3 linked regions of the Homo sapiens genome follow. The protein of the gene in region 3 binds, or shares a complex with, the protein of the main gene of each other region. Each region holds a gene or a part of one and is shown on either strand. Other genes may lie near its edges.

What was found.
Region 1: POLR3G (region 3) and CRCP share a complex: the UniProt entries of both Homo sapiens proteins name them as parts of the RNA polymerase III complex.
Region 2: POLR3G (region 3) and POLR3C share a complex: the UniProt entries of both Homo sapiens proteins name them as parts of the RNA polymerase III complex.

What each region holds. Positions count from the first base shown.
Region 1 is NC_000007.14:66,110,959-66,117,941, forward strand, and holds the start of CRCP (DNA-directed RNA polymerase III subunit RPC9), read left to right. Parts: upstream 1-3,956; 5' UTR 3,957-4,004; coding exon 4,005-4,012; intron 4,013-6,983. UniProt on the Homo sapiens protein: DNA-dependent RNA polymerase catalyzes the transcription of DNA into RNA using the four ribonucleoside triphosphates as substrates.
Region 2 is NC_000001.11:145,834,128-145,841,238, reverse strand, and holds part of POLR3C (DNA-directed RNA polymerase III subunit RPC3), read right to left. Parts: intron 4,746-7,111; coding exon 4,665-4,745; intron 4,425-4,664; coding exon 4,373-4,424; intron 4,222-4,372; coding exon of another isoform or gene 4,219-4,221; exon of another isoform or gene 3,748-4,218; intron 3,704-3,747; coding exon 3,643-3,703; intron 3,184-3,642; coding exon 3,033-3,183; intron 1,350-3,032; coding exon 1,248-1,349; intron 1,124-1,247; coding exon 1,074-1,123; intron 318-1,073; coding exon 168-317; intron 1-167. UniProt on the Homo sapiens protein: DNA-dependent RNA polymerase catalyzes the transcription of DNA into RNA using the four ribonucleoside triphosphates as substrates.
Region 3 is NC_000005.10:90,491,773-90,498,883, forward strand, and holds part of POLR3G (DNA-directed RNA polymerase III subunit RPC7), read left to right. Parts: intron 1-3,904; coding exon 3,905-3,961; intron 3,962-5,883; coding exon 5,884-5,934; coding exon of another isoform or gene 5,935-5,963; intron 5,964-7,111. UniProt on the Homo sapiens protein: DNA-dependent RNA polymerase catalyzes the transcription of DNA into RNA using the four ribonucleoside triphosphates as substrates.

The sequences.
Region 1 (6,983 bases), on a different chromosome or scaffold from region 3:
AGGCCCGTGGCTTTGGGACGCCTCTCCACCTCATTAGTCATTCCCTCCCCTGCCCATCGCGTCGAAACACAATGCATTGTGGTTATTTATGTCCAGAGCTGGTTCCTCAACTAGGCTGTCAGCTAGCCAGTGCAGAGGGTGTGTGTTAGTCACATTTGTATCATCAGCCCCCGATGGGCCATGGCTACATACTTGTTGAGTGAATAACACAAGGGGCATCTTTAGCATTTCTTTGTGGGGCCCAATCTCCTCAGCGAAGGTACAGGGAATTCTCCACACTAACTAGGCCAGCTGGGTCTGGGTGGCATTTTATGACTTTTTTGTTGTCGTTATTTTGCGATGGAGTCTTGCTCTGTCACCCAGGCTGGAGTGCAGTGGCGTGATCTGCAACCTCCGCCTCCCAGATTCAGACGATGCTCCTGCCTCAGCCTCCTGAGTAGCTACGATTACAGGCACGAGCCATCAAGCTGGTTAATTTCTATTTTTTTGGTAAAGATGAGGTTTCACCATGTTGCCCATGCTGGTCTCAAACTGGGCTCAAGCGATCCACCTGCCTTCATCTTCCAAAGTGCTGGGATTACAGGTGTGGACCACCACACTCAGCAGAGTAAAAAATGTTTAACAGCTTTATTAATATAGGATTAATATGCTGTACAATATGCCATTTAAAGTATACAACTCAGTGTCTTCAGTATATTCACAGGGTTGTGCAACCACCACCACCATCTATAATAATTTTAGACAATTTCTGTTTCCCAAAGAGAAACTCCCTACTTATTAGCAATCACTTCCCATCCTTGCCCCCAACCTAGCCTTCTGTCTGTATCCATAGATTGGCCTCTTCTTGGACATTCTATATAAAGTGAATCATACCATATGTATTCTTTTTTTTTTTTTTCTAGAAGGAGTCTCATTCTGTCACCCAGGCTGGAGTGCAGTGGCGTGATCTCGGCTCACTGCAACCTCCGCCTCCTGGGTTCAAGCAATTTTCCTGCCTCAGTCTCCCGAGTAGCTGGGATTACAGGTGCCCCCCACCACACCCAGCTACTTTTTGTATTTTTAGTAGAGACGGGGTTTCACCATGTTGGCTAGGCTGGTCTCGAACTACTGACCTCATGATCTGCCTGCCTCAGTCTCCTAAAGTGCTGGGATTACAGGCGTGAGCCACCACGCCTGGCGATTTTTGTATTTTCGGTAGAGACAGGGTTTCCCCATGTTAGCCAGGCTGGTCTTGAACTCCTGATCTCAGATGATCCACCCACCTCAGCCACCCAAAGTGCTGGGATTACAGGCGTGAGCCACCTGGCCAGGCAATATATATTATTTTGTGTCTGGCTTCTTTCACTTATTAATAGCATCATGTTTTGGGAGGTTATCCATCTTGCAGCATTTATCTATCAGTCTGTCTATATATATTTTTTGCAACAAGGTCTCTCACTCTGTAGGCTGGAGTGCAGTGGTGTGATCATAGTTCCCTGCAGCCTCTACCTTCTGGCTCAAGCGATTCTCCTACCTCAGCCTCCCCAGTAGCTGGGACTAGAGGTGCTCACCACCACACCTGGCTAACTTTTCGTAGTTAGGGGGTCTAGCTATGTTGCCCAGGCTGCTCTGGAACTCCTTGTCTCAAGAAATCCTCCTGCCTCTGCTCCCCAAAGTGCTGAGATCAAGCCTGGCCTCCTTTTTATTTTTATATTTTTGAGACAGAGTCTTGCCCTGTCTTCCAGGCTGGAGTGCAGTGGCACGATCTTGGCTCACTGCAAGCTCTGCCTTCTGGGTTCACGCCATTCTCCTGCCTCAGCCTCCCTAGTAGCTGGGACTACAGGCGCCCACCACCACGCCCGGCTAATTTTTTTTGTATTTTTAGTAGAGACGGGGTTTCACCCTGTTAGCCAGGATGGTCTCGATCTCCTGACATCGTGATCTGCCCGCCTCGGCCTCCCAAAGTGCTGGGATTACAGGCGTGAGCCACCGTGCCCGGCCAGCCTCCTTTTTAAGTAGTTTTCCATTGCACAAATGTAGCACATTTTATTCATCCACTCATCAGTCTCTAGTTAATGCATCTGTTGTATATGTTCAGATTGGCTGGGGTTCAATACCCACTGGACAACTTCCTAGATGAGTGACTTTTGGTAAATCATAATCTCTCCAAGTCTGCCTCAGTTTCTTCAATTATAAAATGTCAATAATAATGCAATGTACCTCATAGAGAGTCATGGTTGTATTGCCACAGTAATTAATAAAGTGCCAGGAACTTTATAAGGATTATTTAACACCCTTATTATTTACAAAGTAGGCAACAGAGGCTATTGTGGTGGTTCACACCTGTAATCCCAGCACTTTGGGAGTTGGAGGTGGGAGGATCACTTGAGGCGAGGAGTTCAAGACCAGCCTGGGCAACACAGTGAGACCCCCATCTCTACAAAAAAATTAAAAAATTTTGTAGCTGACTCTTTGGACAATAAAGAATTTTATTTTAGAAAATTAGCCAGGTGGCTGGGTGCAGTGGCTCACGCCTGTAATCCCAACACTTTGGGAGGCTGATGAGGGTGGATCACAAGGTCAGGAGTTCAAGACCAGCTTGGCCAAGATGGTGAAACCCCGTCTCTACTAAAAAAATACAAAAATTAGCTGGGCATTATGGCGGGCACCTGTAATCCTAGCTACTGGGGAGGCTGAGGCAGGGAACTGCTTGAATCCAGGAGGCAGAGGTTGCAATGAGCCGAGATCACGACACTGCACTCCAGCCTGGGCAACAGAGTGAGACTGATCTCAAAAAAAAAAAAAAAGAAAAAGAAAAAGAAAAAAAGAAAATTAGCCAGGTGTAGCGGAGCGCACCTGTGGTCCCAGCTACTCTGGCAGGCTGGGGTGGGAGGATTGCTTGAGCCCAGGAGTTCAAGGCTGCAGTGAGCTCTGATTGCACCACTGCATTCCAGCCTGGGCGACAGAGCAAGACCCTGTCTCTTAAAAAATAAATAAATAAACTGCAATGTTTCTGGCAGCCCAGATGCCACCAGCCTCACTACTCTCTGAGAGGTGGGATTTTAACATGCAAAGGCCCACTAACCCGATCACGTCTCACAACTTCAGCTGATTAATACTTTGTTAAAACCTAGACCACGAAAACAGACAGAGCCCGGCGAGGTGGCTCACGCCTGTAATCCCAACACTTTGGGAGGCCGAAGCGGGTGGATCACGAGGTCAGGAGTTCAAGACTAGCCTGGCCAAGATGATGAAACCCCGTCTCTACTAAAAAATACACAAATTAGCTAGGCGTTATGGCGGGCGCCTGTAATCCCAGCTACTCGGGAGGCTGAGGCAGGGAATTGCTTGAACCTGGGAGGCAGAGATTGCAGTGAGCCGAGATCGTGCCACTGCACTCCAGCCTGGGTGACAGAGCGAGACTCTGTCTCAAAAAAGAAAAAAAGAGGCTGGGCACGGTGCCTCACGCCTGTAATCCCAGGACTTTGGGAGGCCGAGGCGGGCGGATCACGAGGTCAGGAGATTGAAACCATCCTGGCTAACACGGTGAAACCCCGTCTCTACTAAAAACACAAAAAATTAGCCGGGCTTGGTGGCAAGCGCCTGTAGTCCCAGCTACTTGGGAGGCTGAGGCAGAAGGAGAATCGCTTGAACCCAGGAGGCGGAGGTTGCAGTAAGCCGAGATCCAGCCTGGGCGACAGAGCGAGACTCCGTCTCAAAAAAAAAAAAAGGTTAAAGAAAAAAAGAAAAGAAAACACAAGATAATCCTGTCCGCAAACGCTTAGCAGTCTTAAATCGGCCTGGTGGAAGGATGCAGGGACACTCCCCCACCCTGCCCCCCGAAAAAGGGGAACGCGCAGCGCGAGGTTCCGGGTCCGCCAAGCTCCCGGCATGCAGCGCGGCGATCCCGGCGAGCACCTTGGCGCGCGGAGCTGGCACCTTGGCGCTGTTGGTGGCGGCGGAGACAGCTGTGAAGTGTGAGGTTCTTTGTCTGCTGGCAGCTAGGGGCGACGAGGCGGGACGTCATGGAAGTGTAAGTCTTCTCGGGCGCGTCCCTTTTCGCCCGAGGAGCCCAACGGTTTGACCGCTGAGAGCTGAGAGCCGAGAGCCGTGGGGACTGGGCGACCCTCGTACGGGAGTGAGGGCAGCGGGCCGGCCCTGTCCGGGAGGGCCGCGGGGTGGTGACGGGGACGAACGGGACTCTCGCTTTGCCCTTCCGAACCTTCGCTTCCCCTCCACGCCGTGTCTGGTGCGGGGCCGAGCACTTCCGTGTCCGGCTGCCTTTCAATGTGCCCCCTCCTTCTCTCATTCGTTTACCAGCGTTTCTGGGTCACAGTGCGGGGGTGGAGCCCAGTCTGGTATCCGACCCCGGACTTAGAAGGCTATAAAGGCCTGAGTCTGTCCGCCCTGAAAGTAGGTGGAGGAGAGACGAATCAGGGCCGGGTAGAGCTCTGCTTGCAGCTGTAGGCCCCTGGAGAGCCCTCGGAAGAGCTGCCCTCGGAATTTGATGGGAGCAGTAAACACTGTGAGGGAAGGGGCTGGTTTTGGGGTGGAGAAGGGAAGGACGTGAACCAGGACTGGGACCAGAGAAACAGCAGGGGGTGTGTGGGTGTGTGTGCAAGGCGAGGGTAAAAGATTTTCTGACAGTTTAACTCCACGTGGTCTTTTCCATGCTTGCTCGTTGCGCCTGGTGCAAATGGAAGATTTTGCATCTACTCTGAATGTGGGCTTTATACGGTTGATATTAATTTGTAGGTATTACTATCTTGTGTTCTCTTTGAACTGATTATTTGATACAGTTTCCTTTATGTTCTTTTGCCTCATGTTTAATGGTTATATGTACTATGGCATTTCACATTTTTACATTTTTAATTAATTGTTTTTTCTTAAGAAACAGGGTCTTGCTCTGTCCCCCAGGCGGGGTGTAATCATGGTTCACTGCAGCCTCACTTTCTGGACTCAAGCAATCCTGCTTCAGCCTCTTCAGTAGCTGGGACTACAGGCCCACGCCATCACTCACCGCTAATTTTTTAAAAAAAGTTTTGTAGATGCAGGGTCTCACTACAGCCCAGGCTGGTCTCCAGCTCCTGAGCTCAAGTGATCCTCCTGCTTTGTACTCCCAAAGTCCTGGGATTGCAGGCGTGAGCCACTTCACCTGGCCTCTTCCGATTTTTTTTTAAACACAATATGTCTGTGTAACTGAAATGAAAGGCTCATGAAACAATAATGTGTGGCGTACACTCTCATATTGTCTATTTTTTATTAATATGAATGGGGCCAACCGTGGTGGCTCACACCAGCAATCCCAGCACTTTGGGAAGCTTAGGCAGAAGGATCACTTGAACCTGGGAGGTGGAGACCAGCCTGGGCAACATAGGGAGACCCTGTCTCTGCAAAAAATTAAGAAGTTAGCTGGGTGTGGTGGTTCATGCCTGTAGTCTCAGCTACTTACGAGGCTGAGATGGGAGGATCACTTGATCCCAGGAGGCTGCAATGAGCTGAGATAGAGCCACTACACTCCTGCCAGAGTGACAGTGTAAGGCTCTGTCTTAAAAAAAAAAAAAAAAAAAAATTGAACCACTGAATTAATTTTGCAACCCACTGATGGGATTTCATCTGCAACCTAAAAAACTATTCATATAATTTACTCTAGTCCAAGCCATCATTACTAATTTTTCCCTCTTTACTAGAGCATTTCCTGTGAGCATACAACCCTGCTTTAGAGAATTCATCTTAGAAAATCCTCCGTCCCCACATACATGTCCCCCTCTTACTCCATTTCTGCTTCCCATCCCAACAAAACTTCTTGAAAGTGCTGATTAGCCCCTCATTCTCTCAGCCATTCTGTTGGGCTTTCATCCTCACTGGTCTACGGGAATGACTGTTAAGATTACCTGAACCAGCGGGGCGTGGTGGCTCATGCCTATAATCGCAGCACTTTAGGAGGCCGAAGTGGGCGAATCCCCTGAGGTCAGGAGTTTGAGACCAGCCTGGCCAACATGGCATAACCTCCTCTCTACTAAAAATACAAAAATTAACTGGGTGTAGTGGTGGGCGCCTGTAATCCCAGTAACTCAGGAGGCTGAGGCAGGAGAATCGCTTGAACTCGGGAGGCAGGGGTTGCAGTGAACCAAATTGTGCCACTGCACTCCAGCCTAGGTGACAGGGCAAGACTGTCTCAAAAAAAAAAAAAAAAAAAACCTGATCCCTCCATCTTGTCAAATTCAGAGGTTGATTTTCTGGCCTCAACTTTCTTGATCTCTCAGCAGTGGTTAATACAGAAACTCTAGAAACTTTCCTTTTCTTGTGATGTATGTTCCTTTGCGTATTTCCTCCTACATCAAGGACTACTTCAGTGTCCTTCCCTGGGTCCCGTTCCTCTCTTGCTTGATGTCTAAGTGTTGAGTGGTATCTTAGGGCTCAGTCCTGGGACCCTTTCTCTCCACACTCTGTCATTTCACCCATCTATGTGCTGATGGTTCTCAAAGGTATGTTTCTAACCTTCTTCTCATCATCTATCCAATTGCATAGACCAAAAATCTAGCCCTCTCTCTTCACTCCCTAAATCCAGTCCATCAGTGGTCCTGTTGTTTCCACCCTAGAATATATTTTGAATGCAGTTACTTTTCACCATCTCCAATGTTAGCTTTGTAGTCCATCACCTCTGGGCTGGATTAAGCAATAGCCTTTGAGTGTTCACTCTTCCCCAGCCTCCATTCTGTTCTCCACATGGCAACTGGAGTGATCTTAAGTAATGATTGGAACATGTCGCTCCTGGGTAAAACCCTTCATTGACTTTCCATTGTACTTAGAGAAAATCTCCATCTCTTACCAGGACCTGCAAGACCCTGTAAAACCTCACCTACTCCCCAGCCTTACCACTTGCCACTCTCCCAACCTCCCAGACACACACTTTCCACTGACAGGTATTTCCTTCTCCTCTAACCTTCTAAGCACTTCCTGAGGACCATTGCGTTGTGGTACCCTCTGTCTGGTATACTTTC
Region 2 (7,111 bases), on a different chromosome or scaffold from region 3:
CTTCAGAATTGCTAGTTTACAAAAATAGGTGGATTAAATTCTGTTAAGTGAGCTGGAGGAGACAGTGAGTTTAGGTTTGCTCATGCTAAGCTGGAGGGTTACAGGAGGTCAAAATGGATTTTCTGGATGGTATTCTGAAATGCAGGTCTGAAGTTTATGATGCTTACTTGTTGACATTACGTTTCAGGGTCTCTAGCTGCTGACGTTCAGGAGCTGTGATCATCTCCTCTATTTCTTGTAACTGTGCTTCCTCTGCACCAGTAGCCTGCATAGATGCAATGATGGCTTCTACCCTCTGAGATTTTTCTAGTAGACGCCTGTCAAACAAACACAACTCTGAGACATCTTCCCTAACCTGGGAGATTCTCTTACCACGTGTGTCTGAGGCACTACCCACCACCCTTTACCATTTTCCTGATCAAAGTAGATAATGTCACCTTCTAAGGACATTTTCTACAAACTTATTTGGAAATATAACTTCACTCCTGAAATTCTTATTGCCTCTCATTTGCACTTAAAAGTTTGGTGCTTTTGTACGTTTCTCACAAATTTAATCTGAAAAATTATTTCACTGGGAGCATGTTAGAAAAGTGTAGACTAATGCATGATTTACACTAATCTAAGCCAATGATTCAATGCAAGTAGACTGGTTGCTATCTCTACTGGTTCCTACTTCTCAAAAAAAAAATTTTTTTTTTTGAGATGGAGTCTCACTTTGTCGCCCAGGCTGGAGTGCAGTGGCGTGATCTTGGTTCACTGCAACCTCCACTCACTGGGTTTAAGTGATTCTCCTGCCTTAGCCTCCCGAGTAGCTGGGACTATAGGTGCCCGCCACCATGCCCAGCTAATTTTTGTATTTTTAGTGAAGACAGGGTTTCACCATGTTGGCCAGGTTGGTCTCAAACTCCTGACCTCAAGTGATCCACCTGCCTCAGCCTCCCGAAGTGCTGGGATTACAGGCATGAGCCACCCTGCCAGGCCCAGCGTCTATTGATTCCTATTTCTAGAGGAAATTTCCCCTGAGGCCCTTGATCTTGAAAGATGTAAATAACTCAACTGAAAATGTTACTTACTTATTCTCTTTGGTTTCAAATTGCCTCCTTTCTATCAAGTTGGCTATGCTCTGAGGAAAGAGAAGACAGACAAGGAATGCACATAGTTCTATTTCAGCAGCTCAGGGCGAAGTGGGCACATGAGGGGTACTTGACCGTATGGAGGAAATGGGGAGAAGGTCCAGATTGAGTTACCTTGTAGCACCTGTGCAACAACATTCGGGCAGCTGACAGGATGTTCACAGTATATAAATAGAAGGTCCTGGATGGGGCATGGTCTGGTGTTTTGGGAATTTCCTATTTGTCCAATAGAAAGAAAAATAGCAGAAATTATACTGTTTTAGAACTGGCAAAGCACACACTCATTCTACCTGGAGTTACTTAGCCCTCCTTTTTACTTACACTTTCCTGTTTCCTAGTCATTCAGTACCTGTGTTTATTTTATTTATTTATTTTGAGACTGGGTCTTGCTCTGTTACCTAGGATGGAGTGCGGTGGCATGATATCAGCTCACTGCAACTTCCACCTCCGGCTCAAGCAATCCTCCCACCTCAGTCCCCCAAGTAGCCGGAACTACAGGCATGCACCACCATGCTCCGCTAATTTTTTAATCTTTTGGGGGTGGTGGAGACATGGTCTCACTATATTTTCCAGGCTGGTCTTGAATTCCTGGGCTCAAGTGATCATCCCGCCTTGGTTTCCCAAAGTGCTGAGAATACAGGTGTGCCCGGCCCAGTCTTTGTGGTTTATGTCATAATCAGTCAAATGGAGAGCTGGGCTTCCCTGTTTTTTCCATTTGACTGTCAGCATCCTGAGCTGGGGAAGAAAGGGAGGGCAACTAACATTTACTGAACAACTCTATGTGCCAGGTAAATTCTATTTGATCTTTACAAAAAGTCGTATTATTATTATTTTTGAGACAGAGTCTTGCTCTGTTGCCCAGGCTGGAGTGCAGTGGCACAATGTTGGCTCACTGCAACCTCTGCCTCCCAGGTTCAAGCAATTCTCCTTCCTCAGCCTCCTGAGTAGCTGGGATTACAGACACACGGCACCACGCCCAGCTAATTTTTGTATTTTTAGTAGAGACAGGGTTTCACCAGGTTGGCCAGGCTATTCTCGAATTCCTGACCTCAAGTGATCCGTCCGCCTAGGCCTCCCAAAGTGCTGGGATTACAGGCATGAGCCACCGCACCTGGCAACCATATTATTTTTATTATCACCATCCATCACTGTTTTATAGATGGGAAACGTGGTAACTTGCTTAATGTAACTGGGTAAGGCAGAGCTGTAATCTGACTCCAAAAATCCATTCTATCTATTTACTCATATGCTCTACTAAATAGCCCTGCAAAGACTCAGTTAGATGTGTTGATAAATTTAAACTATAACAGAATTAAGGCTTAAGGAAGGACAGAAATGAGAAGAGAAAAAAAGGCAGGGTGGGTTTGGGGTGATGTCCTGGCTCTGCCTCTTTTTTGTTTTTTGTTTTTTTTGTTTTTTGAGACAGAGTCTCACTCTGTTGCTCAGGCTAGAGTGCAGTGGCTTGATCTCGGCTCACTGCAACCTCCCCCTCCTGGGTTCAAGAGAGTCTCCTTCCTGCCTCAGCCTCCCGAGCAGCTGGGACTATAGGCGTGTGCCACCAGGCCCAGCTAATTGTTTTGTATTTTATTAGAGACGGAGTTTCACCATGTTGGCCAGGCTGGTCTCGAACTCCTGACCTCAAGTGATTTGCCCACCTTGGCCTCCCAAAGTGCTGGGACTACAGGCGCGAACCACCGTGCCCGGCCACCTCTTTCTCACTAGGGCAGTTAAGGCCCCAAATTATCCTCCAAGTGCTCGCTATGTCTCTGTGAATCATGTTTTTCTGTCTCAGAGCTGGATATAGAGTTTGCTTGGGGGTTCAGTATGTTTGCCTAAGAAGCTTCTCTCACCCTAGGCCAGCTTTGCTGGTTGGCAATTATTACGCCCTTGGTTGGTTACCTGGAGTGACATGAAATTTTCTGAGAGCATCTTATATAGCATATCCTTTGCCTCCTTTGCAGGAATCATTGCAAAGTCTTCCACTTGCTTCTGCTCTATGTGTTTCTTCTGCAAAACTAGACGGAATATTCTAGCACAGCGAGACCCAAATCTGGAAAGGAATGAAGAAAGCAAATGGCATGCTAACATAGATCAGCTTTAGTTCCCAGTCATAGATGGGGTGGTTGTTCTATTCCATGTGTGAAGCCAGTACCAGACAGGAACAGTGATCAGAAAATTATTCTACAGCTCCATAGGTTGGTGATGGTAAGGCATCACCAACTGCTGTTAATCATAAGGCAGTCACCAACTGCTGACTCATTTGAGTGCCACAGTTCCTACATTTGTAAGCAAAGGCTTTAGGGAGGCTGGTTAATTTGCATCGGTAGGAATTAAACAGTAGGTTATTTTAAGGTAAAGAGCAGTATTACATGAGATCCATAGGAGTCCAGTGAAAAAATGGGGAAAAGTATGCCAAGGTGTGGTTATATTGGTGGCTTACATAATGATCAAATTACTTCACTGGGGATAGGAAGTATGTGATCCCAAACCCAACCAGTGTCCCCCTTACCTCTCCTGTACGACGGACTCCAGAGTGGCTGTGGCTAGGGATGCTAATGCCTTATGGAGGTCTTTATGTAGAGAATTAAGGTCACTCAGTAATGTTTTGGCCTAGTTATTGTGATCTGAGTTTTATTCCTAAGTTTCTAATTTATAATTAAATTTTAAATGCTATTTTGTTTTTCATGTTATAATTTATGGTTTCAGTCATGGTACATAAATATTCCAAAACTTTAATACAAGTGTTTAAGTAAGGGTTTTGCTTAACTAAAATTTGGTTGATTAAAAGTCCTTTTTCCTTTTCTTTTTTGAGACAGGGTCACCCAGGTTGGAGTACAGTGGCATGATCTCAGCTTACTGCAACGTCTGTCTCCTGGGCTCTAGCGATCCTCCCACCTCAGCCTCCTGAGGAGCTGGACTACAAGCATGCATCGTTACAGCTGGCTAGTTTTTGTATTTTTGGTAGAGATGGGGTTTTGCCATGTTGCTTAGCTGATCTTGAACTCCTGGGTTCATGCAATTCACCTGCCTCAGCCTCCCAAAGTCCACCATGCCTGGCCTCTTTTTACTTCATCATCAATGCAGTTCACTGAAAATTCATAGAAAAATTTATTTAACAATTACTTCAATTTTCTAATTTATTTAGTATAATAAACATTACCAAATCTTTCTTTCCTAAGGCACCATTCTGATTTATAGGTCAGGCTGCCTGACTCTAAGGAAATAACTGGTAAGGATACTGATGACATACATTCCTCCACCACTGTCGCCAGACTTTCCAACAAACTCTAGCTATTAAGAAAAAGAGAGAGTGTTAACTGAACGGAAAGTCCAGTGATTCTGTTTCCAATGGAACAAATCTGACCAAAAGTCTGCAGCAGGTAGCCCTCCTATCAAATGATGTGGAGAAATTGTCTGGGCTGGCTAGGTAGAGAATAACTCTGCAGGAGGATGACACTAGGTATCAGTGCAGAAATAAATTATCAACAGTACAGGCTAAAGAAAAAAGAAAAAAAGCAAAAACAGACTTACTGGATCATCTGCCAGCAGAGTGAGATACTGATCAAGAACTTGCTTAGAGATGTTATAGCCAACAGGTAGGGATCTGAAGATCTATGGAGCAAAGGACACTTAAAATGGGTTTGGGAACTTAGAACTCCTGACCTTACTGAAATAAAGATGTTTTAGGCCGGGCACAGTGGCTAAGGCCTGTAATCCGAACACTTTGGGAGGCTGAGGCAGGTGGATCACTTTGGGTCAAGAGTTGGAGACCAGCCTGACCAATATGGTGAAACCCCGTCTCTAGTAAAAATACAGAATTAGCTGGACGTGGTGGCGCATGCCTGTAATCCCAGCTATTTGGGAGGCTGAGGCAGGAGAACTGCTTGAACCTGGGAGGCAGAGGTTGCAGTGAGCCGAGATTGCGCCAATGGACTCCAGCCTGGGCTACAAGGGCGAAACTCCGTCTCAAAAAAAAAAAAAAAAAAGTTTTAATTTTAGTTACCACAAAACTGTCCAAAAATATTCACAGCAGGATTGTTTGTAAGAGTAAAAAACTAGAAACACCCAAATGACCAGTACCGAGTACACTAAAATAAAATATAGCACGGCCATTAAGTGGAATATGATACAGTCATTATGAAGAGTGAGACAAATCTACAGAAACTAACATGAAAGGAAGTTTTACATACACTGTCATATAAAAAATCAAGTTATAGAACAGTATGACTAGGTTGGGTGTGGTGGATCACGACTTTGTAATGCCAGCACTTTGAGAGGCTGAGGTGGGAGGATCACTTGATGTCAGGAGTTCGAGACCAGCCTGGCCAACACAGTGAAACCCTGTCTCTACTAAAAATACAAAAATTAGCCTGGCGTGGTGGCATGTGCCTGTGATCTCAGCTACTCGGAAGGATGAGCAGGAGAATGCCTTGAACCCAGGAGGCGGAGGTTGCAGTGAGCTGAGATTGCGCTACTGCACTCCAGCCTGGGTGAAAGAGTACAAGACTCTGTCACAAAAAAACAAAAACAAACAAACAAAACCCAACCAAAAAGCCATATGAATAGTCCCATTTTGGGGTTAAAAAATACATATACCCACATATATGTTAGAGTATGCAAGGTCTGAATAAAGATATATACCAAACTTTTTTTTTTTTTTTGAGACAGAGTCTCACTCTGTTTCCCAGGCTAGAGTGCAGTGGTGCGATCTCAGCTCACTGCAACCTCCCATTCCCGGGTTCAAGCGATTCTCCTGCCTCAGCCTCCCAAGTAGCTGGGATTACAGGCGCCCATCACCATGCCTGGCTAATTTCTGTAATTTTAGTAGAGATGAGGTTTCACCATGTTGGACTATGCTGGTCTTGAACTCCTCAGGTGATCTGCCTGCCTCGGCCACCCAAAGTACTGGGATTACGGGTGTGAGCTGCTGCGTCCGGCCTTTTTTTTTTTTTTTTTTTTTTGAAATAGGGTTTTGCTCTGTTGTTTAAGCTGGAGTGCAGTGGCATGATCATAGTTGACTGCAACCTCAACTCTTGGGCTCAAGCAATCCTCCTGCCTCAGCCTCTCGAATAGCTGTGACTACAGGCATATGGCACCACACCCAACTAATTTTTTAAAAAAATTTTTTGTAGAGACGGGGGTCTTGTCATGTTGCCCAGGTTGGTCTTCAACTCCTGGCCTCAAGGGATCCTTCTGCCTCAACCTCCCAAAGTTCTAGGATTACAAGTGTGAGTCACTGCACCTGGCCATAGAACTTTAAAATAAACAATATAAAAATATAGGAATATTTAAACACAGTCATGCACCATATAACATTTTAGTCAACAACGGACCGTGTGCAGCTGTGGTCCCATATTATACTGGAGCTGAAAAATTCCTACTGCTTTGTGATGTCATAGCTGTTGTAACATCATAGCACAATGCCGTTGTGAAACACATTACTCACATGTGTGGTGAGGCTGGAGTGCAGTGGTATGATCTTGGCTCACTGCAACCTCTGCCTCCTGGGTTCAAGCAATTCTCCTGCCTCAGCCTCCCGAGTAGCTGGGACCACAGGCGCATGCCACCATGCCCGGCTAATTTTTTTTTTTTTTTTTGTATTTTAGTAGATGGGTTTCACCATGTTGCCCAGGCTGGTCTCAAACGCCTGAGCTCAGGCAACCCACCAGCCTGGGCCTCCCAAAGTGCTAGGATTACAGGCGTGAGCCACCCCGCTCAGCCTGTTACTGGTTTTTAATAAATACAGTGTAGCCTGAGCGTGTAGACCATCACATTCACATTAATCTGCCATTCATTCACTAACTCCCACAGGGCAACTTTTAGTCCTGAAAGCTCCATTCATGTTAAGTGCACTAAACAGGTGTGGTTTTTAATTTTTCATACCATATTTTTACTGTACCTTTTCTGTGATTAGATGTTTAGATACACAGATGCTACTGCGTTACAACTGCCTACAGTATTCAGTACAGTAACATGCT
Region 3 (7,111 bases):
CTCATCACTATTCATCAGACATTCCCCACTATGCTGAAAAAAAGAATAAATTTAAAAAATGGGAGAATGATGAAATTGACTGTGCAATTCAAATAAATTATCACTATTATGTCATCATATAGTTTTCCTATGGTGTTGTCCAAAGCATTACATCTGTTTTTTAAGAAGTTATAAAGTCTTCAGAGACTCTTATGTTTGTAGTTGCTCTGTTTTAATTTTCATTTAATACAATTGAAAATTTCAAAAATTTTTAATTTTTTGCTCATAATGTCTAAAATTGACAGAAAAACATGTTCCACAATTCTTAGACGAATCAGAAGTCAAATGCAAAGAGATAGATAGCTCTCTGGATGCTCATGATGATGATGAAATTGATTGTATAAGCAAAATCTCAGACTGTGAGTCTTCAGATGACAGTGTCTTCAATGAATTTTCTCAAATTCAAGAATCAATGAGTAAACACTGTATCTCCAAGAATTAAAAAGGAATTATGGTGGCCTTCTACAGTCAATCTTTGAAAAAGAACTCATCATGTAATACTTTGTAACAAAAACCTGGAACATCCTGTTTGCTAAAATGAGACGATCATTTTTGTTCTATGATATTTGTGCACCAAAATTAATTTGATGTGTTTTGTAACTGACAAATGCTGAACATAAAGGCAAAGACAACAATGATTGAAAGGAAATTGATTATATAGACATGAAATTGTTTTCTGGATTGATTGTGTTAACTGGTGATTATAAATTTAATAATGAAAATATTTTGCAAGTATAGAGCAAAGAAGATGGCTGGGCCATCCTCTCTTCAATAGAAGTATGAGACATCAGCCGGGCGCAGTGGCTCACCCCTGTAATCCCAGCACTTTGGGAGTCTGAGGCAGGTGGATCACGAGGTCAGGAGATCAAGACCATCCTGGCTAACATGGTGAAACCCCGTCTCTACTAAAAATACAAAAAATTAGCCAGGCGTGGTAGAGGGCACCTGTACTCCCAGCTACTCGGGAGACTGAGGCAGGAGAGTGGAGTCAACCTGGGAGTGAGCCGAGATTGTGCCACTGCACTCCAGCCTGGGCAAGACTCCGCCTCAAAAAAAAAAAAAAAAAGTATGAGACATCAAAGTTTTTTAAAGTATTGCATTTTGGATATGTAAGTACAAGAAGAAGAATTGGAAGTAGTGATAAGCTAGATTCTACTAGAAATGCATTTATAATCTGAAATTATTTAGATGATACACATATGAGAAAACCAGAGGAAATTATAAGTTAGAACCTATTAAAGATGTCTTTGGAATCTGGGATCAGGACGTACAGAAGGCATATATTCTAGGTTTGTATGTGGCAGCCGATGCACAGAAAACTGCATTCAAATGACTTTGCCCATTTTGGTTAAATTTACCTTCAAAATCAGTAAAACATGTAATATAAATTTGGATTTGCTATACTTAATTGCTTAGTAAAATCTCCAATAACTTTATTTATTTATTTTTATTTGAGACAGGATCTCGTTCTGTCACCCAGGCTGGAATGCAGTGGCATAATCTCAGCTCACTGCAGCCTCCACCTCCCAGGCTCAAGTGATCCTCCCACCGTAGCCTCCCAAGTAGCTGGAACCACTGGCATGAGCTACCATGCCCAGCTAATTTTTGCATTTTTTGTAGAGATGGGGGTTTCACCATGTTGCTCAGGCTGGTCTCGAACTCCTGGACTCAAGGGATCCAGCTGCCTTGGCCTCCCAAAGTGCTGGGATTACATCCTGAGCCACTGTGTTGGGCCTAGTTTTATTGATTTTTAAGTAACAGCTTTACTGAGACATAATCCACTATATAAAATTTACTTTTTAAAGTGTACAATTCAGTGACTTTTAATATAGCCACAGAGTTGTGCAATCAACACCACTATTTAATTTTTTTTTTTTTTTTTTTTTTTTTTTTTTTTTTTTTTTTTTTTTTTTGAGACAAGAGTCTTGCTCTGTTACCCAGGCTGGAATGCAGTGGCATTATCTCAGTTCACTGCAACCTCCACCTCCTGGATTCAAGTGATTCTCTTGCCGCAGTCTCCCAAGTAGCTGGGATTACAGGCACGTGCCACCACACATGGCTAATTTTTTTGTGTTTTTAGTATAGATGGGGTTTCACCATGTTGGCCCGGCTGGTCTTGAACTCCTGACCTATTAGCAATCTACCTGCCCCAGCCTCTCAAAGTGCTGGGATTACAGGTGTGAGCCACTGTGCCCAGCCACTATCTAATTTTTTAGATGCTTTTCATCATCTAGAAAAGAAATTCTGTACCCTTTAGTAGTCATTCCCTACTCTCCCTCCTTCCAACCCATGGCACCAGAAATCTGCTTTCTGTCTCTAGAGATTCCATGTCATATAAATGGAATGATGTAACATGTGTCTTTGGCTTCTTTCACTTGCCATAATGTTTTCAAGGTTCATTCATGGCTTAGTACATATGAGTGCTTCATTCCTTTTTATGGCTGAATAATATTCCACTGTATGGATATATGCCACATTTTGTTTATCCACTCATCACTTGATGGGCATTTGGGTCAGTTCACTTTTGGGATTACATGAGTTATCTTGTCATAAACATTCATGTACATGTTTTATGTGAAGACATGTTTTCATTTATATTGGGTATATACATAGGATCATATGGTAACTCTGTATTTCACATTTTGAGGAACTGCCAAACAGTTTTCTAAAGTGGCCACCCGATTTTACATTCCCATCAATAATGTATGAGAGTTCCAATTTTTCCATATCCTTGCCAACATTTCTTATTTTTTTTTTATTCTAGCCATCCTAGTGGTTGTAACACAGTATCTCATTGTGGTTTTGATTTGAATTTCCGTAATGATTGGTGATGTTGGACATCTTTTCATGCTTTTTGTCCATTTTTGTATCTTCTTTAGAGAATTGTCTATTCAAATCCTTTACCTCTTTTTAATTGGGTTCCAATAATTGGTTTTCAATATCTGTTCTTTTATCTGTTATCTTTTTTATTTATTCTCTGTATTTCATTATTTGAAATTAACTTAAAAATATTTTAAAATATAAAAAGTGGTCTACTGTACCCAGAGAAAAAGGGTAAAAACTGTTTTTTTCCGGTATACTGAGGGTTAAAATTATTTAAAATATGGAAACTGTTTTGGAGAAAATTCTTAAAAAGAAGTCATTGTGTTACAAATTCTAGGAATCTCTCATTTGTGCTGACTTCGTTTTATAGATTAAAAACTTGGCAAGATTAGTTAAAACATTTTACCTGAAGTCAAACAGTTAAAATACCTAGAAAAACCTGATCTCTTGGTCTCTGATCTACTACTTATTTTGGTTATCTTTCTCTAATACGTGGTTGTATTATTTGGAAGCATATACTTGACATAGAAGAAAAATCAGTATATATTTGGTCCTTGATTTTTATCCATTCATCTTTAGTATTACCTTCCCTTTTTCATGCCTAACTCCTGAACTACTTTTTATGATGAACATGGCTTCAAGCTTTTGTGTGATAGTGTTGCTTTCCAACTTGTGCTGCTGGAAAAGAGTTTGTGCCCTCCTTAAGGGTGTTTCTTGTGATAAGGTGGACTAGTCTGAATCAAGAGCCGCAGTTATGGCTTTACTGGTTTTGGCAAGCTCAGAGGGTTCCTGCAGAGTTTTCAGCAATTGGCATGTAGGGCTTGCAGCTTGCTCATTTATGCCTCAGATCAGTAACCCCTCACCAAGTCCATCCTTGCCTACCCCTACCCTTTTTCCCATTCTCTTATGTACAAAGGTGGGAAACTCCCTGTATGTAAAATTAAAAATGTTGTCTGTTGTTTTCAATAATCTTAAAGGAATGGCTTAAGTTCAGGGTTACTGTTGATTTTCCTAATGAGTTCTTTATTCTTTTTTCCCCTAGATATTGAAAGGTATAGTAAAAGATACATGAAGGTATACAAGGAAGAATGGATACCAGGTAACTACAAAACACACAATATGAAAACAGTTTTTAAAGGCTGTCTCTCTCACCTCATGTTTTTTTTTTAGAATAAGTTTTCTATTTTTACCATAGGAAAACTGAGTCTGGTTCTTTTATTGTGATTAATTAGTAATCTGTTAGAAACTAAGGTGAAAAGATTTTTATGCTAAAACAAGGAAGAGTTGAAGTGCTTTTGTGGAAGTTCTTAAAATATATATATATGTATATTTTATTTTATTTTATTTATTTTTTTGAGATGGAGTCTTGCTCTGTCGCCCAGGCTGGAGTGCAGTGGCACGATATCGGCTCATTGCAAGCTCCACCTCCAGGGATCATGCCATTCTCCTGCCTCAGCCTCCCGAGTAGCTGGGACTACAGGCCCCCGCCACCATGCCCAGCTAATTTTTTGTATTTTTAGTAGAGACGGAGTTTCACCGTGTTCGCCAGAATGGTCTTGATCTGACCTCATGATCCGCCCGCCTCAGCCTCCCAAAGTGCTGGGATTACAGGCATGAGCCAACACCCCCCACCCTTAATATACATTTTTTACAAAAATAGGACAGGCCAAACAAACCCTTTGAATTTTCCAATTTAATTAGCCACAATCACAATTTTAATTTGTAATACCAGAAAGCACAAATACTATGCTCCTGAGCAATTTTAGAGCATTTGAAGAGAAAGCAAAAATCTCGTTTTAAAGATATTTTAAGCCAAGCTCATGGATCTTCCTTTCTTTTAAGCAGACATAGACTAGTTTTAGTTGTTAGGCTTCTTCAAAAGAACCATATCCAAAAAGAAGCTTTACCTTGGGTATGGACAAGTTAGAAGGGTCTGTAAAGGAGATCTCATCCCACTCATTCATTTTGCAAATAAAAACAGTTGTCATAGAAATAAAGTGACCTGTCAGGCCATGTGGCCAATACTGTTAGAACCCAGGTCTTCTCATTTTAATTCACATTCTTTTTATGTCTCTGTCCTTGGTCTTTTATGGAAACTCCCCTTATGTAAAAACATAGATGGCATTAACAGCCTTATCATTTTCACAGATTATAGTACTATCTTTTCAGTGTTGGTAAGGTTGGGGCACCCTGGAAACAACTTAGGTCTCTCATTTCTTCCGTTTCATTAGTATTCATCTCTCAAATGATTCTCTACATATTCCGTCATGATCTAAAATGAATAGCTTATAAAAACTAAAATATATTCAAAGCAAAATTTATTTTTCAGGTAAAATGACTTGAGATTTAAATGCTTTGTAAAAATGCTCCAAATTTTCTTTAAAAGCAGGCAATATTTTTAAATCAACTTTTATGTTGCTTCCATTTCCTGTTTAACTCTATGCTTAAAAATTAAAAGAAAGTGACACATTAGAGGAATTATTTAGCTAATACAAGCAAAATTATTTATTGGAGGAGATTTGTTTTTGACAGCTATTTATATTTTTAATTTTAAAGTTTTCAGATATTACAATTGTTTATTTCATTTTGCATGTTTTGGGATTATGGTAACATCCTTTTGAAAAAAAAAATTTGTTGCATAAGAAATATATCAACTACAGAATATATCAACTACAGAAAACTTATGAAATATAAAGTGGTCAAATAAATATAAATAATACTTAAGAAAAACTGTCATAATTCCAACACCCACAAATAATTACCATAAGGTTTCCTTCACCAAAAATTTTATAGCACTATTTCAGAGCTATTGTAATAAATTTTCTTTATAGGAGAAAATATATCATTGTCTGTAATATTTGGATTTGGTTTTTATATGTTTCAAGCTAAATTTGTAAAGTCAGATACTAAGGCACTTTATTGTCATTTTCTGGACAACTGTTGTGTCCTTCAAATAGTTATGTTCAATGCCACAAATTCCTAGAGGAAACTGCAATTTTTTATTTTTTATTTTATGTACAGATTGGAGAAGACTTCCAAGAGAGATGATGCCAAGAAATAAATGTAAAAAAGGTACATTGACTAATATAATAGTAATTCAGGTAGGAAAAGGTTATTTCTTACATTCTGTTAATATGGATTTGTCAACCCAAAGTTATACTCACTGTTCTTAATGCTTTTCTTATTTTGAGCCAGACAAGGGATCTCATGCCTGTAATCTCAGCATTTCGGGAGGCTGAGGTGGGAGGATCACTTGAGCCCAGGAGTTTGAGACCAGCCTGGGCAACATAGTGAGAACTTGTCTCTACAAAAAGTTAAAACAAGTATTAGCCAAGTGTGGTGGCATGCACCTGTAGTCCCAGCTACTTGGGGGTCTAAGGTGGGAGGATCACTTGAGCCAAAGAGGCAGAGGCTGCAATTAGCCTAAACTGCACCACTGCACTTAAGCCTGGAAGACAGAGCAAGACCCTGACACTCTGTCTAGGACACTGACTCTCTCCCTCTCTCTGTCCCCCCATGTATGTGTGTGTGTGTGTATATATATGCATTATAACTATTTTGCTAAAGCTTGTTTTTTGTTGTTTGTCTTTTGGGTGTTTTTTTTCTTAGTTGTTGCCTTTTCTTTGTGTATGTCTTATTTTTTAATTTTTAAATGTTTTATCTTTTTTTAAATTTCTGTGTTTATTTTAGATACAGGGGTACATGTGCAGGTTTGTTACATTGGTATATTGCACTCAGGTAGTGAGTGTACTACCTAATAGGTAGTTTGTTAACTCACTCCACCCCGTCCTCCCCTCCCGACTTTAGTAGTTCACTGTGTCTGTTGTTCCCATGTTTATGTCCATGTGTGCTCAGTGTTTAGCGCCCACTTATAAGTGAGAACATGCAATATTTGGTTTTCTGTTCCTGCATTTATTCACTTAGGATTTTCCTTTAGTTATGGAATTGTGGAGCTGCTAAGAAAGACTTTTCAATTATTGTAGACCTTTTCATTTGCATAACTGCAGATTTTTTATTATACTGGCTACATTATAAATTATTAACTAAAACATTTTAAAATTGGGAAACCAATAAAATGGAGCTTTATGTTGTATAGAAGAATGCCAAAGTGAATGTTTACAGTTTGTTTTTCTTTAGTAATTTCATTCAGTAAATAGTTATCTATTATTGCCAGACATTGTGCTGACAGGAATAAAACTGAGCAAAGTGGGAATAATCCTTGTCCTCATGGAGCTTGTAGTCAAATGGG